Regions from separate parts of the Homo sapiens genome. Here region 1 is linked to region 2. Evidence: fine-mapped QTL for protein levels in blood plasma. A gene starts in region 2. The other region holds a variant in brackets. All regions are shown on one strand. Distances are between the middles of the regions.

What was found. PIP is the posterior inclusion probability: the model's chance that the variant is causal. Protein levels are from antibody-based Olink assays in UK Biobank. Linkage for the fine-mapping came from a reference panel and not from the study's own genotypes, which makes the PIPs less certain.
Region 1: its variant is fine-mapped to the plasma level of the RAB44 protein (UK Biobank, PIP above 0.99).

Annotation. Positions count from the first base shown.
Region 1 is chr6:36,725,966-36,728,876 of GRCh38, reverse strand. It overlaps RAB44 (RAB44, member RAS oncogene family), which reads right to left. Exons shown (of 14, transcript NM_001257357.2): 11 at 1,186-1,300; 12 at 76-177. Among named protein-coding and RNA genes, the nearest start is that of RAB44, 30 kb to the right of the region's middle. RefSeq lists an enhancer at 2,079-2,218. The variant T/GATCACTTGCGGTCAGGAGT (reference allele first, on the strand shown) is at 1,854.
Region 2 is chr6:36,696,606-36,699,516 of GRCh38, reverse strand. RAB44 (RAB44, member RAS oncogene family) reads right to left here and starts at 1,691. Exons shown (of 14, transcript NM_001257357.2): 1 at 1,602-1,691.

The DNA.
Region 1 (2,911 bases), 29 kb before region 2:
ATGCCTATCCACCACCTGCCAGGGAGGTGTCTGCCCAGTCCACGCACAGAGACGGGCTGATGCCCAAGTGCTTACCTGGGCCAGTTGCTGCCCAGCTTCCACGGACACTTGCCGTTCCTCCTCACAGTCCATCTTGTTTCCCAGGAGAAGGATGACCACCCCATCCGACCCTGCATCCTGCACACAGAACATGTTCTGTCAGCCACACCCACTGTGTGCCAGGCTCCTGGCACATTTGCCTTCCTAGAAGCTGAACTGTGTCCCCCGCATGTTCCCCCTCCCAGGCCACATCCACTCCATAACCTTCTCACCTGGACCCTTTCCCCCATCCTTCCTCTCTGCTGATAAACATCTCACTTATTTTCCAAGGCCAACCTTAAGAACACCTCCCCCAGGAAGCCTTCCTGGGTTGTTCCTGCCCATGTCCTCTCTTCCTGCCTGTTCTGAACAGTCCAGCACTTGATTATACATTTTCCCAATTGTCTCATGAATAATAATAATAGTTTCTGATTAGTGAGTGATTGCTATACACCAGGTGCTGTGCTGAAAGCAATTCTATCAATTAATTGTCACAACTCCCCTATGAGAGAATTCCAGAAATTGAAGTTCAGAGAACTCAATTCACTTGTCCAAAGTCACAGAGTTCGGGTGGGTGGGATTCAAATGTAGGTCCTGTCAGACCCCAGTGCTCAGCTCCCCTCTTCACACATTACCTTATCCTGCTTCTTTTGCTAAACTAGAAACTTCCAGAGAGAAGGCAACATGGCTAACTTCACACCCCTCTGCTGTGCTAGTACACACTGCAGAATTTCAGTATATATGCTTTGAGGAAGTAAGCAGGGGAAAAACTAGAGATGTGTGAACAGAGGAATTACCACATGGAATGGCACAAGAACTACATTAGCCTCAAGTGTAAGAAGAAGACATTACAAACAGCTGCCATATGTAGGAAGAGAATGTTCACAGGATAAAGGAAGTAGTTTGGTTTGAAGTCTGTACTATGTGGTTGTGGTTTCTTTGTACTACTGCATTCCCAGCTCATCCAACCACATGCCCTCAGTGGGTGGTGTCACCCATATGTCTGTCATGTCATTTGTAATCCTGGGAGAAAAGAGGGAGTGGGCAGGATATAAGATCCCTCTTGACTGGAGGGACTGGGGCCAACCCCAGCAGCCATCTGCTCACCTGGAGACAGTCTAGCCAGTAGCGCACGTGGGCAAAGCTCTCCTGGGAGGTGATGTCGTACATGAGCACCACCCCGTCAGCCTTGCGGAGCAGCTGTCGCGTCATACTGTGGTACCTGCCCAGAGAGTCTGCATGAGGCCACACCAGGCATCCAGACCCCAGGCCCTGGCCTCTGCAAAGTGGGAGAAGTAACCTATCCTACTTCTAATTGCTTCCCACAGAGCATGTCCGTATGCTTTTCTTCGTACAGTGTAGTTATTGTTGACTAGGTAACAGTTCTCATGGCTCAAATTTCAAAAGGTCTCAAGGAGAACTCAATGAAAAGTCTCCTTCCTTCTGCCCCATCCTGGAGCCACCCAGTCCCCCTCCCCAGAGGCAACCAGGGTTATCAGTTTCTTAAATATTTTTCCAGAGGCATTTTACGTATATACATATATATACACACACATATATACACCCATACACATACATCTTTCCCCCTCTATTTTATACAAATACAGTGTAAAACATTCATCATACTCATTAATATTCAGTGTTCTGCATTTTGTTTTTTTCCAGTTAACAGGATGTCTTGGAGAAATTTCCCTATCGGGCTGGGCACGGTGGCTCACGCCTGTAATCCCAGCACTTTGGGAGGCTGAGGCAGGAGGATCACTTGCGGTCAGGAG[T/GATCACTTGCGGTCAGGAGT]TCCAGATCGGCCTGGCCAACATGGTGAAACCCTGTGTCTACTAAAAATACAAAAATTAGCTGGATGTGGTTGTATGTGTCTGTAGTCCCAGCTCCTCAGGAGGCTGAGGCACAAGAATCACTTAAGCCCTGGAGGTGGAGATTGCAGTGAGCTGAGATCACACCACCACACTCCAGCCTGGGTGACAGAGCAAGACTCTGTCTCAAAAAAAAAAAAAAAATCCCTATTAGTACATAAAGAGAGTCCTCAGTCTTTGTGTGGCTTTATGGTGTTATACTGGGTAGATTGACCCTCCTTTATTTAACTGGTCCCCTATTGATGGACATTTAGGTTGTTTCCTATGTTTCATAACACAAGTGAGAATACTATGACTGGTCCTGGTCCCTTTGTTATTATAGTCATATGAGTCTATTTATAGAATGAATTTCTAGAAGTGGAACTGCAGAATCAAATAAGATATGCCTTTTAAGTTTTTATCACTGCCAGGTGCCGTGGCTCATGCCTGTAATCCCAGCACTTTGGGAGGCCGAGGCAGGTAGATCACGAGGTCAGGAGTTCGAGACCAGCCTGGCCAATATGATGAAACCCCATCTCTACTAAAAATACAAAAATTAGCTGGATGTGGTGGTGGGCACCTGTAGTCCCAGCTACTCAGAGGCTGAAGCAGGAGAATCGCTTGAACCCGGTAAGTGGAGGTTGCAGTGAGCCCAGATCACGCCACTGTACTCCAGCCTGAGCAATACAGCGAGACTCCATCTCAAGAAGAAAAAAAAATTTTTGATCACTACTGCCTAGGTTGAAAGTAGAAGACCAGCATTTTTAGAAGGACAGGTGATTGGGTGGCTGTCCCCTAATGACCATGTTGGGAAGCCCTAATATATGCCCTGCCAGGCTGAGGGACCTCTGGCTCTGCTGCCCTCTCTCCCCTGCCTTGGGCTTGACTCATCTCTCCTTCCCTGACCTCCTGAATCCTTGGGGGGCAGTTGCCTCCTGCCTGTGTTATTAGGGCTGCTCCCTGTCCCTCTGCACCCCTACGCTCAGCCTAGGTTCCTGACAC
Region 2 (2,911 bases):
GTGACGCCCAATGTCTCATGTACTTCCGGCAATGGAGCTAACACGGCCAAGGGAGCAAGATAAGATTCCCTGTGCAGAAGCCTCCAGAAGCAAAGTCCACTGTGATGTGAGTGTCACATCGCAGCCTGCCGGGCTCCCACAGGTGTAGGATGTTAGAATCCTGGAAGAAATTCCCTGCAGCCACATCCTAGGACATGTGGCATTCCTGACTTTCCTTTCTGGGAGTTCCTAGCCAAGCTACACCTCCACAGCCCATTTCCAGCAGTCCCCTGGCATTTTTTAAGAAAATAGCACCTTCCAGACACCTCGCCTGCCCCACCTCAGCATCTGCCCTCTCTGCCAGTCAATCCTTCTCTCCCAGGAGGGGTACTCAGCCACCCGCTCCTTGCCTGACAGGTGGCCTGGGGCAGGAAGGCAGCAGGTGCCCTCCAGCCATCGCCACCTCAAAATCAGTCACTTGTCACCATCAGGTGGGATGGTGCACTCACCCCTCGTGCCTTCACATTCAGATCCCTGACAGCACCCCCACGGCCTGACAGCACAACCTAAAAACAGTCTGTGTCCCTTCTAGGCCAGGCCTGGTCCCTCAGAGACAGCAAGGACATCCTTCAGTCAATCCACAAATGTACACGTGCAAACGTGCACGCACACACACCCTCCTTGGCCATCATCCTCACCCTCCAATCCCTCACCATCAGCCTCTCAGTCAGACACAGCACCCCTCACGGCCATTCCATCATTCCATTCTGCATGTGCAAATGCCGTCGCCCAGCACACACATCCCTCCGAGTCAGCTGGCAGGGCCACCCTGCCAGCGCCCTTCTCCTCCACCACTTTCCCCTTAGTGCATCCTCATGCCTCACGTCCTTAAGAGTGGGGGACCCCTTCATGGCTAGGACACACATATAGCCCCTCAGCATGACCACCTCTCCCCACATCCCTCACCTAAGAAATCGCATAAAACTTGAAGCCAAACATGAGAGCAAATGAATCCCACTCCCAAGCACCTGCGGGAATCCACTACCACCGTGGTATTCTGTTAGGCAGCAGGCACCACAGGCTGCCCACCAGGAAGTGGAAGCCAGAGAAGAAGAGTGGGGTGGGGCAGCAGGCAGCAGCAGATTACAACCTGGCATGGGCCCTGCCTGGGGCCTCCGGGTATCCATCACTGTCTCACCAAAGGGCGCTCAGAACTGGGTCTGCTCTCCACTTGGCTGGCTTCAATAGCTGTAAATAATAGCCACAGTCGCTAAACCCCAGTGGTCCAAGTCAGTGGGCCTGAGAGACCACCTAGTGTCTTGTTCCAGTCTACTTATCCTCACTCCTCCTCTCCTAACTAACAGAGAAACTGAGGCTCTGAGAAACCAGGTGACTTGCCCTAGGTCACACAGCCATTTACGGGTAGTGATGTACCCCAGCCTCTTGCCCAAGTGCTTTCCCATCCCCTCCCTTAGACCATGCAGAGAGCTCCAAATGCAGGAGAAAAGAGGGCTCTGCCTTTTGCACCCTTGACATAGAAGTTAAACAGGGACCCCAGCTCCCTCCCCCATCCTCATCCTTCCAAAGAAAAAGAAGCATTGCAACCTTGGGATGGCTCCTACCTCTCAAAGGCTCCCAGTGGAACACACAGCCCTGGGCTCTGGGACCTGGTGGTAGGGTGACTGCTGCCCTGCGGAGCCCACGAGCTCTAGAACTGTTAACAGTCTTGTCTTGCTTAATCTCCCTTTCCGTTCCCCAGCGAGCCAATCTCCTGTGCTCATCTACAGGACTTCCTGTGGAAGCGACCACTGGCGGCCCTTTCACAATTTTGCCTGGCACCCCCAGGCATCCCTGCCCTGATTGGTGTCTTGAAGTGGAGAATGCTGGAGCTGGCAGGGAGGCCCTCCTAAGCAGAGGCTCCAAAGAGTGAGATGGACTGCTCAAGATCACCCAGCCCTTAGTGGCACAGCCAGGACTGGGCCTCAGTCTCTGGTTGCCAAGGCAATGCCTTATCCCAGACAGCAGCAGGTTGATGGGCACAGCCGTGGCTGAAGCTAAGTGTATGGGATGCCCCGGGAGAACTGCCCATCCTGCCTCACTTCAGGCCCTCACTCTCAGACAGTGTCTTTGAGCCTCAGGGGAGGCTTTATATCTAAACCACCTTTTAGGGAACAATCTAGTCTGATACCAAAATACACTGTAGAGCTACAACCATCAGAACAGTGTGGAATTGGAGCATGACTATAGACAGATGAATCAGTGGAACAGAATAATGAAATAGACTCAAATATTTGTGGGACAGGAATAGACTCAAATATTTGTGGGGATTTAGTGTATCATAAAGGCACCACTTCAAATCATTGGAGAAGAGATGGTTTATTCAATAAACTATGTTGGGAGAATGGGCTAGGTATCTGCAAAAAACAAAGAGCTCTAACTCTAAAAGCATTCCAGATGGATAAAAGACATAAGCATTTTAAAAATCAAAATCACATAATTATATGTTGTTTGGGATTTACTTCAAAATTATTGAAGAGTGTGGAGAATAGGTAGGACATAGATGAAACAAGACTGGCTCTGGACCTGTTCTGATCCCTGCTGGAGTTAATGAGGGTACTGCAGGCTCATTATGTTCTTCTGCTTTTCTGTATGTTTGAACAAATGCCATAAGAAATCATGGCATAGTTCATTTGCCATGGTTGCAGAAGAAGGAAGGAAAGAAAAGGAAGGAAGGAGGGAAGGAAGGGAGGGAGGGAGGGAGGGAGGAAGGAAGGAAGAAGGAAGAGAGAGAAAGAGAAAGAGAAAGAAGAGAGAGAAAGAAAGAGAGAGAAAGAGAAGAAAGAAAAAAGAAAGAAAGAAGAAAGAAACTAAGAAAGAAAGAAAGAAAGAGAAAGAAAGAAAGAAAGAAAGAAAGAAAGAAAGAAAGAAAGAA